3 linked regions of the Homo sapiens genome follow. The protein of the gene in region 1 purifies or fractionates together with the protein of each later gene. This does not show direct contact. Each region holds a gene or a part of one and is shown in the gene's direction. Other genes may lie near its edges.

Region 1 (3,651 bases):
AGCCAAGATCGCACCATTGCACTCCAACCTGGGTGACAAGAGCAAAACTCCATCTCAAAAAGAAAAAAGACTGAAAGGAGATTGTCTGAAGCACTTGCACAGTGCTTGGTGCTTGGAAGGCCTTCAGTAAACAGTGGCCCATTCATATTTATTATTAGCGGAGGAAAGAGAACAGGCCCTGGGGCCAGAAATACACAAATGACCCCAGATCTCAGCTCTGCTACTTGATAACTGTGTAATCTTGAGCCCTAGACCATAAGGTCTTTGTCTAAAATGAGTGTGGTGCCCCCCAACCTGCCTGCCTACCTCTAGTGGTTATTGGGAAACTAGAATGCAACACTGCGTGCTGTTCTACATCAGTTTTTAATGCCCACACAATTGCAAAGCATTCTTTTTTTTTTTTTTTTTTTTGAGATGGAATCTTACTCTGTCACCCACGCTGGAGTGCAGTGGCGCAATCTCGGCTTACTGCAACCTCCGCCTCCCGGGTTCAAGCGTTTCTCGTGCCTCAGTCTCCCAAGTATCTGGGATTACAGGCGTGTGCCACCACGCCTGGCTAATTTTTGTATGTTTAGTAGAAACAGGGTTTCACCATGTTGGCCAGGCTGGTCTCAAGCTCCTGATCTCAAGTGATGCGCCTGCCTCAGCCTCCCAAAGTGCTGGGATTACAGGCGTGAGCCACCACGCCCAGCCCAATTGCAAAGCATTCTATCAGTTGTTTTCAACTCCCTGATGTCTTATTATTTTTTCTTTATAGAATCCAGAACTTGGACCAGAGCTGCCAAGGGACGTATATATGCCAGGCCCATGGACCTTGGGGGAAGGCCCAGGCCAGTGCCCAGCTGGTTATCCAAGGTAGGAGGGTGGCTTCAGGCCTCTGCTAAGAGCAGGGAACAGAGATGAGAAAGGCAGAGAGGCACAAGGCCCAGACCCTGTTCCCTAGGAATCCCCCTAAATGTGTCAGAATAAAGAGAATTATTCCATTTTGCCTTGCTTGTGTCTAGCATAGAGTAAAAGGGGCTTGATACATATTTCAAGGGAGGGAAGAAGGATATGGATGGAGTGTGTGAGTGCTCAGATGAACCGATGAAGATTGAATCAGTGTGAACCGGGCATGGTGGAACGCACCTGTAGTCCCACCTACTCAGGAGGCTAAGCTGGGAGCATTGCTTGAGCGCATGAATTCTAGGCTGTGGTGAGCCGTGATCACACCTGTGAATACAACCAAGACCCTTTGTCTAAAAAAAAAAAAGAAGTGGACACGTGAGTGAGTAAATGCATAAGACCTGACAAGTGAGTGTGTTTGTGAGTGAATGCATGAAAAAGTGAATGAGGAGTGAATGAATGCTGGAGCTTCAGTGCTCACCTTTCCTTGGGCAGTCTATGGCCTCCCTCGGGCCAGGCCTGCAGTGACTGATCTCACTGGACCTCTGCCTCCCTCCTCCCCAGCCCTGCCCTCGGTGCTCATCAACATCCGGACCTCTGTGCAGACCGTGGTGGTTGGCCACGCCGTGGAGTTCGAATGCCTGGCACTGGGTGACCCCAAGCCTCAGGTGACATGGAGCAAAGTTGGAGGGCACCTGCGGCCAGGCATTGTGCAGAGCGGAGGTGTCGTCAGGATCGCCCACGTAGAGCTGGCTGATGCGGGACAGTATCGCTGCACTGCCACCAACGCAGCTGGCACCACACAATCCCACGTCCTGCTGCTTGTGCAAGGTGAAGGCCAGTGGGGACTTTTGTTGGGGGACAGTGAGTGGGGCAGGGGCTTCTCCTGCTGCCATCTTCTGCCTGCCCGCTCTGCTCTTCCTTTCTGTTCACTTGGGACATTTTCCATTGTGTGTGTTTAAGGGGCAGGTTTCATAACAGGTGGCAGCAGCAGGGGATAAAAGTGAGATTCCCCCAGGGCAGCCTGGAATGTACAGGGAGAGAGCTAGGCCATAGAGCATCAAGAAGAAAAAAGAAACCTTGTCCTCATCTGCAGGGAGTGCCTGCTCTGCTGGGAGAGACCTGCAGCATAGTCTGAGGGCAGAGACATAACCCAGTCAACAAACAGACCTAATAGAGAGTAAAACAAGGACAACAGATGCAGGGCAGACACAAACACTGTGTGTTCTTTAAAGGCAATTCCTTTTTACCCCAAGCCCTGTGACTTGCCTCCAAACTTCCTTACCTATACTGCCCCTAGTGTGCACTTCTCAGGTCCCCAAAGGGCTGCACAATTTTTTGCCCAGGCATGTTGAAGAGGTCTCAGGCTGTGGAGTGAAATGGATCTGGCCCTGAACCCTGACTCTGCCCGACCAGGAGCAAACAGCCGCTTTTCCCCTCTGAGCCATAATTTCCTCATCTGTGAAATGGAATGTAGTGGCTTCCTTCAAGGGGTGGTGTGAAGATGAAATGAATCAGGGTGCAGGCTGGGCACATATCTGTGACTGTCATGTTGATGGCCTATGTCTCTTCCATGCCTCTCAGCCTTGCCCCAGATCTCAATGCCCCAAGAAGTCCGTGTGCCTGCTGGTTCTGCAGCTGTCTTCCCCTGCATAGCCTCAGGCTACCCCACTCCTGACATCAGCTGGAGCAAGGTAAGTGCTGGAGAGGGAACCAGCGGGCATGACTTGGGGGCTGGGAACAGATCTGAAGCGTCTCAGTGTCCCCAGGATGTGGCACAGGCTTGGCCAAGAGCAAACGCTCAATGTTGGAAGGTGGGCCTGAGGCACAGATGGGAGGTGGGCCCCTGGAGCCGTGGGCCAAGGCCAGGGCCCTCAGTGCTAGTGCATTTGCAGCTGGATGGCAGCCTGCCACCTGACAGCCGCCTGGAGAACAACATGCTGATGCTGCCCTCAGTCCGACCCCAGGACGCAGGTACCTACGTCTGCACCGCCACTAACCGCCAGGGCAAGGTCAAAGCCTTTGCCCACCTGCAGGTGCCAGGTAAGACACCACCCCTAAGAATTGGCAGTGCCCTGCCCACTCCCTGACTGGCAGGGTCTTCAGCTGTGCTCTCTGCTGGCAGAGCGGGTGGTGCCCTACTTCACGCAGACCCCCTACTCCTTCCTACCGCTGCCCACCATCAAGGATGCCTACAGGAAGTTCGAGATCAAGATCACCTTCCGGCCCGACTCAGCCGATGGTGAGCAGGAGGGTTAATTTGCGGGGTGGGCTGGCCTGGGTTGAGGGACCTCGTGGAGTAACTGCCATCATGGCAGGAGCCCTGGCTGCCCCTCAGTCCTGCCCCAATCCCTCAGCCCTCCCTCTCCAGAAGCCCCCAGACCTCTGGGCCTCCACCCTGGTGTGCCTTCTCTTGTGCCTCCCGGCTTCTCCATCCCTGCCTCTGTGATATCTCCAGCCTCCTCGTGGCTCCTCTGCCACCGGGGCATCACCCCCAGTCCTCCTGTCCCAGCTTCCTTTCCCCATCTCTGCTCCTTCCTCCCTCCTCTGCCTCCATCTCACCCTTTCCTCCTCTCTTTCTCTCGTCTCTTACGGGTCTCTGACTTTCACTGTCCAGGCCTCCTTCTCTACTCGGGTGAGTCTCTGCCTCCCTCTCCCCCTTGAGGGAGACTCCAGTGTGTGTGAAGCAAATTCAGTTTCTTTCTAGGGGCGCTCAGTAAGGCCCTTGCGTTTGGGGCACCAGCCCTGAGATAGTGAGAAGGCCCT
Region 2 (3,651 bases), on another chromosome or scaffold:
CAAAGAGCTTCCCAGTTTTCATGTTAGTAAACTTGGAAATAATTTTCTCATGCACCTGATTTTTAGCTTCCTATTTTAACACCGATTATTCTTAAACTTTATGGGAGTAAATACCCATCTGTCATTAACTAAAATGAGTAGTTAGGTTTGGAAGTAGACAGTGGCTTACCAAATTGAGATTGGCAAACTTGTGGGAACTCTTTGTTTTCCTTTCACATCTGTGAGTTCAAATATAATACAAATTAATGTAGAACTAGAGTACTAAAGTGACTTTTTTTCAGAGCATGTATACACTTTATTTTATCATTGTTCTCCTCTAGATACTTTCAGTTTCTGATGGCATAGCTGAAGTCATGTTGTGGCTTTATTAGTTTCAGGAACTTGGATGTCTGTTTTAAACCTTAGCTATCATTTTAGTCATCCCAGGAAGTTTGACTTGACTATTCTTATTTAAATATTTTTCAAACTGTTGCAACTTAATACTAGGAAAAAGGAAGGACTAGCTGAGCTGACGGAAGTTAAGCTTGCTTTCTTAACCGCAAGGCTTAGAGCCTTTATTATGCTAATTGGCATTATGAATTTTTTAGGGACTCCTTAACACACAGCTATCCCAAACCTGTTTTTTAGGACACCTAAGTGTTACTAATTCAGAAATGCTGTTCAGGGTCTAGGGATGGTTGACAAAGTATAGCCATATTTTTGTGTAGCCTGAGAGCTAAGAATGTTCTTTACATTTTTTAAATGGTTGGAAAAGAATCAAAAGAATTATTTTGTGACACGTGAGAATTATGTGAAATTCAAATTTCAGTGTCCATAAATAAAATTTTATTGGAACACAGCTGTGCTCATTCTTTTTTTTTTTTTTTTAAGTATTGTTCATTGCAGGTGACGATGGCAGAGTTTAATAGTTGTCACACACAGTATATTGCCCCGAAAACTCCATATTTGCTCTCTGGTGTTTACAGAAAAAGTTTGCTTACCCTCATGTGGGGTGTCAGCAGTGAGGTTTATAATACCCCTGGGTATGGAAAAGGAAAAGTGATCAGTGGAAGTAAGGGGAGGGGGAGCAGAAGCATTGAATATCGTTGGTGAAATGAATGCCTCTAGTAGCTGCATCAATACTTACCCTGGTAAGTTAGTTGAAAACCAAAGTATGCTTTACTATTGGTTTTTGAAACATCTCATAATACTACCATTTAGCCAAAAGATTGTCATGACATTCCCAAGAAAGAATTTTAATAAAACCAAAATATTGCAACATTATAAGAGACCGTCAATCAAATCCAGCACATTGTTTTCATTATGTAGTGAATGAATGGTCTGAAGATACCCTTCTGTGAATGTTAATGTATTTGTGAGTTTGTTAGGCACATTAATTCACATTGTTTATGGCTTGGTACCATTAATCTGCCTTAGGAATTGAATTCTGTGAAGAGTTAAGTTCCTTTGTAAGAACTCATTGTACTTGCTGGAAACTTGCCATTAAAAATGGAAACTGCAGCTTGTGAATGGGGAAGGGTTTACAGGAACATAGATTGTTCACCAGACATTGATGCATGCCTGCAAACGGAGACACCAGCTGGCTTCAATGAAATATAAATGGTTCTAGGCGAACAAATGAGACGTCTGTTGGAGGAGGCAGCATCTCTCTTCAGATGTCATTTACATTGAGCCAGAAGTATTTTTTAATATTTTGTGGTTATTTAGACAGCTGTTAAGTTGCTCCTAGTTTCTCACTGGATTTGGCAAATAAATGTTTTTAATGGTCTTTGTACTTTGAGTCTTAAACCTGATATTCTATTTAGGACTGTGTATGTAGCTGCAGTTACTGCATATTTCTGTGATTTATGCATTTAAGAATCCTGTAAGTTTATGGCCATTAAAAACTGCAGTTGTATTCATTACTAATATAGAGCTTTTTTTTTTTTTTTTTCTTGAGACAAAGTCTTACTCAGGCTGGAGTGCAGTGGCATGATCTCAACTCATTGCAACCTCCATCTCCTGGGTTCAAGCGATTCTCGAGCCTCAGCCTCTGGAGTAGCTGGGATTACAGGCGTGCGCCACCACACCTGGCTGATTTTGTTTTGTATTTTTAGTAGAGATGGGGTTTCACCATGTTGGCATGGCTGGTCTTGAACTCCTGACTTCAGGTGGTCCAACTGCCTTGGCCTCACACAGTGCTGGGATTATAGGTGTGAGCCTGTGCCGCCGGCTTTTTTTTTGTTCGTTTGTTTTGAGACGGAGTCTCACTCTGTCGCCTAGGCTAGAGTGCAGTGGCGCAATCTCAGCTCACTGCAACCTCCACCTCCTAGTTTCAAGAGATTCTCCTGCCTCAGCCTCCTGAGTAGCCGGGATTACAGGCGCACACCACCACGCCCGGCTAATTTTTGTATTTTTAGAAGAGATGGGGTTTCACCATGTTGGTCAGGTTGGTCTTGAACTCCTCACCTCATGATCCACCTGCCTCAGCCTCCCAAAGTGCTGGGATTACAGGCGTGAGCCACCGCGCCTGGCCTCCCTGGCTTTTTTTTTTTTTTTTTTGGATGGAGTCTCACTCTGTCCCCCAGGCTGGAGTGCAGTGGCACAATCTCGGCTCACTGCAAGCTCTGCCTCCCGGGTTCACGCCATTCTCCTGCCTCAGCCTACCAAGTAGTTGGGACTACAGGTGCCCGCCACCATGCCTGGCTAATATTTTGTATTTTTAGTAGAGATGGGGTTTCACCGTATTAGCCAGGATGGTCTCGATCTTCTGGCCTCATGATCTGCCCGTCTCAGCCTCCCAAAGTGCTGGGATTACAGACGTGAGCCACTGCGCCCAGCTCCCGGCTTTTTTATTAAGGTAGGAAAATAAAGCCTAACTTGAGCACAGCAACACATAGGCTAAACATGGCTAGATTAGAGGTTAGCCCCTCTTTAGGTGTGGAAGGTACTATTCACTATGGTTGCCACGGAGACATAACCTGAGATGTAAAGGAGAATAATATAAATTTCTTCAGTTTTTTAATGGCTTTATTGGAAAAAGAATGTAGTACATACTAATCGGGTCTTTGTTTTGTTTTTGTTTTCTGAGACAGTCTTGCTCTGTCCCAGGCTGGAGTGCAGCAGCACAATCTCGGCTCACTGCAATCTGCCTCCTGGGCTCAAATGATCCCCCTGCCTCAGCCTCTCAAGTACCTGGAGATACAGGCATGTGCCACCATGCCCAGCTAATTTTTGTATTTTTTTGTAGAGATGGGGTTTCACCATGTTGCCCAGGCTGGTTTCAAACTCCTGGGGCTCAAGCAATCTGCCCGCTTCAGCCTCCCAAAGTGCTGGGATTACAGATTTGAGCCACTGTGCCCGGCAGGTTTTTTCTGCTAAGTGTTTTGATAGATCTAGAAAGACAGTGATAGAAAGCTTTCGTTTTGAAAGATTGAGAATAAAAGCTTCAGTGGAAGTGCCCAGTTGTGAGTATCTTTCCTATTTGAAAAGAGATTTTTCTCTTTATAAAAGAAGAATGTGAAGTAATAGCATGGGTTAAGTTTGGGCCTCTTGAATAGTTGGTTCATGAAACTAGATAATGGTATTAGGAGTGGGAGTAGGTATTTTCAAGTACCTATCACTGAATTAGTTAACCAGCAATTTGTAGTCTCTGTAGTCCTTGTGTTAACC
Region 3 (3,651 bases), on another chromosome or scaffold:
CATACCCAGCTAATGTTTTCTATTTTTAGTAGATACAGGGTTTCACCGTGTTAGCCAGGATGGTCTCGATCTCCTGACCTCGTGATCCACCCGCCTGGGCCTCCCAAAGTGCTGGGATTACAGGCGTGAGCCACTGTGCCTGGCCGGAAAAGCATATTTCTAAAGATGATTTCACCCACCCCAAGAATAGCATATCTAGGTAAAATCACATGATCCTAAGTATATACCCACATAGGCTTTTTGGGTTGCTTTTGTGTTTATTGTGGTAAAATATACGTAACATAAAACTCACCATCTTAACTATTTTCAAGTGTACAGTGCAGTGGCGTTAAGTGTGTTGACACTGCTGTGCTACCATCACCATCAGCCATCTCTGGTACTTTTGCATCTTCCAAAACAGAAACTCTGTACCCATTGAACACTAACTCCACTCTCCCCCTCCGACCAATCCCTGGCAGCCCCCATTCTACTTTCTGTCTCTGTGACTATGACTGAACTAGGTACTTCATATAAGTGGAATATATTATATTTGTCTTTTCGTGTCTGGCTCATTTTACTTAGCATGGCTTCCAGGTTTTTTCACGTTGTAACCTGTGTCAGAATTTCCTTCCTTGTTGAGCCTGAATAATATCCCACTGTATGGATAGACCACATTTGTTTATCTCCTCCTCCACTGGTGGACATGTGAGTTGTTTCCACCTTTTGGTGACTGGGAATAATGCTGCTGTGAACATTGGTGTACAAATGCCTGTTATGGATGAACTTTTACAAAGTGAACATGCCCTTGCTACTACATCAAGAATAGAACATTAGCAAGAATGCATGAATTTAAAGGCAAAGCAGGAGATTTCAAATACGTTTCATGCCCAAACATGGCTGCTTCAATTACACCTCAAGATCTTGGGACTGGATATTGATTTTCTCTACCATGAGGGGGTTTGGAAGAGATATTTGAAAGAACACAGTTAATAATCTGTGATTTGAAAGAGTCAGTTTATAATCACAGATTAGTTATGAGATTTAAGTAGCTCCTTTCCTTAAAACGTCTAGGGATGGGAGTACAACCTGTTGAGATTTGCAATTGTAGCTGTGTTAGGGTATCACCACTAGGATCATTCCAGGCTGCCCCTTGGCCATTGTAGGGTTCAAATCCACCTGGAGAACTCCTGCCTTTCTGGCAGCTTCTGCTGGAGCACAAGTCTAAGCCCATTCTTTGGCCGTATCCTGCCTGCCCTCCTCATTTCCTTCCTCCCTCCTTCCCTTCCCACCTGATCTCTCTCTCGTTTTTTTGTTTGTTTGTTTGTTTGTTTGTTTGTTTGTTTTTGAGACTGAGTTTTGCTCTTGTTGTCCAGGCTGTAATGCAATGGCACGATTTGGCTGACCGCAACCTCCACCTCCTGGGTTCAAGCGATTCTCTTGCCTCAGCCTCCCGAGTAGCTGGGATTACAGGCATGTGCCACCACACCCTGCTAATTTTGTATTTTTAGTAGAGACAGGGTTTCTCCATGTTGGTCAGGCTGCTCCCGAACTCCCGACCTCAGGATCCTGCCGCAGCCTCCCAAAGTGCTGGAATTACAGGTGTAAGCCACCGTGCCCAGACTTCTCTCTCTTCTTAAGTAGAACGATTTATCAGTGACTCTAAGAGTTTATGTGTGTATTTAGAAATAAGGCCAGGCACAGTGGCTCACACCTGTAATTCTAGTACTCTGGGAGGCCAAGGTTGGGGGATTGCCTGAGCTCGGGAGTTCGAGACCAGCCTGGGCAACAGGGTAAAACCCCATCTCTACTAAAATTACAAAAATTAGCCAGTCATGGTGGTGCACGCCTGTAATCCCAGCTACTCAGGAGGCTGAGGCGGAGGTTACGGTGAGCCAGGATTGTGCCACTGTGCTCCAGCCTGGGCGACAGAGTAAGACTCTGCCTCCAAAAATAATAAAATAATAATAATAAAGTCTTCAGTCAAGAGTAATATTTTGATGCCTGGCAACCACCCCCAGGCTGCCTGCATGACACTTTCAAGTGTCATCGAAGTAGATTCTTTTTTAAAAGACTTTATTGAGATATAATTTGCATATCATCCAATTCACCCATTAAAATGTACAAGTCAATGGATTTCAGTATATTCACAGATATGTGCAAATATCACCCCAGTCAACTTTAAAATGTTTTCATCAACACAAAGAGAAGTCCATATCCGTTAGCCACCACCGCCTATCCTCCCAGCCTTAAACAGCCACTAATCTAGTTTCTGTCTCTATATTGCCAATTTTGTATAATTTGTGTAAATAGAATCATATAATATGTGGTTTTTTTTTTTTTTTTTTGGTCTGGCTTTTTTCACTTCCCTTAATGGTTTTTTTGTTGTTGTTTCTTTGTTTTGTTTTGTTTTGAGACGGAATCTTGCTCTGTCACCAGGCTGGAGTGCAGTGGCGCCATCTCGGCTCACTGCAACCTCCGTCTCCCAGGTTCAAGCGATTCTCCTGCCTCATCCTCCCAAGTAGCTGGAACTACAGGCGTGCGCCACAATACCCAGCTAATTTTTGTATTTTTAGTAGAGACGGGGTTTCACCATGTTGGCCAGGATGGTCTCGATCTCTTGACCTCGTGATCCGCCCACCTTGGCCTCCCAAAGTGCTGGGATTACAGGCGGGAGCCACGGTGCTCCCCTAATGTTTTTAAGCCTCACCATGTGTCAGTATCTCGTTACTTTTTATGGCCGAATAATATTCTATTGTATGGGCATACCGTATTTTGTTAATCCATTTATAGTTGACAGACATTTGGGTTGTTTCCACCCTTTGAGTATTATGAATAATACTGCTATGAACATTCATGTAAAAGTTTTGTTTGAACACCTGTTTCAATGTGTTTCAATTTTGGGGGGGTATATACTTAGGAGGGGGGTTGCTGGGTCATATAGTAATTCTATGTTTAGCTTTTTGAGGAATCACCAAATTGTTTTTCACAGTGGCTGTAGTATTTTACATTTCCACTAGCAACGTATGAGGATTCTAATTTCTCCACATCTTTGGGGACACTTTTTATTTTCCCCTTAAGAAAATTCCAGCCACCTTTATGGGTATGAAGTGGTATCTCATGGTACTTTGTGTTTGCTTGATGACGAGTGATGTATCACACCTTTTTATGTGCTTGTAAGCCATTTGTATATCTTCTTTGGGGAAGTGTCTATTTAAGTTTTTGCCCATTTTTAATTGGGTTGGTTGTCTTTTTTTTTTTTTTTTTTTCTCTGAGACAGAGTCTCACTCTGTCACCTAGGCTATAGTGCAGTGGCACGATCTCGGCTCATTGCAACCTCCACCTCCCGAGTTCAAGCGATTCTCCTGCCTCAGCCTCCCGAGTAGCTGGGACTACAGGCACGCGCTACCGTATCTGACTAATTTTTGTATCTTTAGTAGAGACAAGGTTTCACCATGTTGGCCAGGCTGGTCTTGAACTCCTGACCTCAGGTGATCCGCCCACCTCGGCCTCCCAAAGTGCTAGGATTACAGGCATGAGCCACCGTGCCTAGCCTGGGTTTCTTGTCTTTTTATTGTTAAATTATAAACAATTTTTACATATTCTGAATTCTAGACCATTGCAGATATATGATTTACAAATATTTTCTCCCATTCTGTGGGTTATCTTTTCCCT

Evidence for each region.
Region 2: the proteins of HSPG2 (region 1) and AKIRIN2 purify together in Homo sapiens (co-immunoprecipitation; one large-scale study listed by IntAct). This does not show direct contact.
Region 3: the proteins of HSPG2 (region 1) and LOXL2 purify together in Homo sapiens (co-immunoprecipitation; one study listed by IntAct). This does not show direct contact.

Annotation. Positions count from the first base shown.
Region 1 is NC_000001.11:21,832,744-21,836,394, reverse strand, and holds part of HSPG2 (basement membrane-specific heparan sulfate proteoglycan core protein isoform b precursor), read left to right. Parts: intron 1-757; coding exon 758-855; intron 856-1,449; coding exon 1,450-1,716; intron 1,717-2,469; coding exon 2,470-2,579; intron 2,580-2,780; coding exon 2,781-2,928; intron 2,929-3,010; coding exon 3,011-3,127; intron 3,128-3,651. UniProt on the Homo sapiens protein: Integral component of basement membranes. Component of the glomerular basement membrane (GBM), responsible for the fixed negative electrostatic membrane charge, and which provides a barrier which is both size- and charge-selective.
Region 2 is NC_000006.12:87,695,590-87,699,240, reverse strand, and holds part of AKIRIN2 (akirin-2), read left to right. Parts: intron 1-3,651. UniProt on the Homo sapiens protein: Molecular adapter that acts as a bridge between a variety of multiprotein complexes, and which is involved in embryonic development, immunity, myogenesis and brain development.
Region 3 is NC_000008.11:23,393,991-23,397,641, reverse strand, and holds part of LOXL2 (lysyl oxidase homolog 2 precursor), read left to right. Parts: intron 1-3,651. UniProt on the Homo sapiens protein: Mediates the post-translational oxidative deamination of lysine residues on target proteins leading to the formation of deaminated lysine (allysine).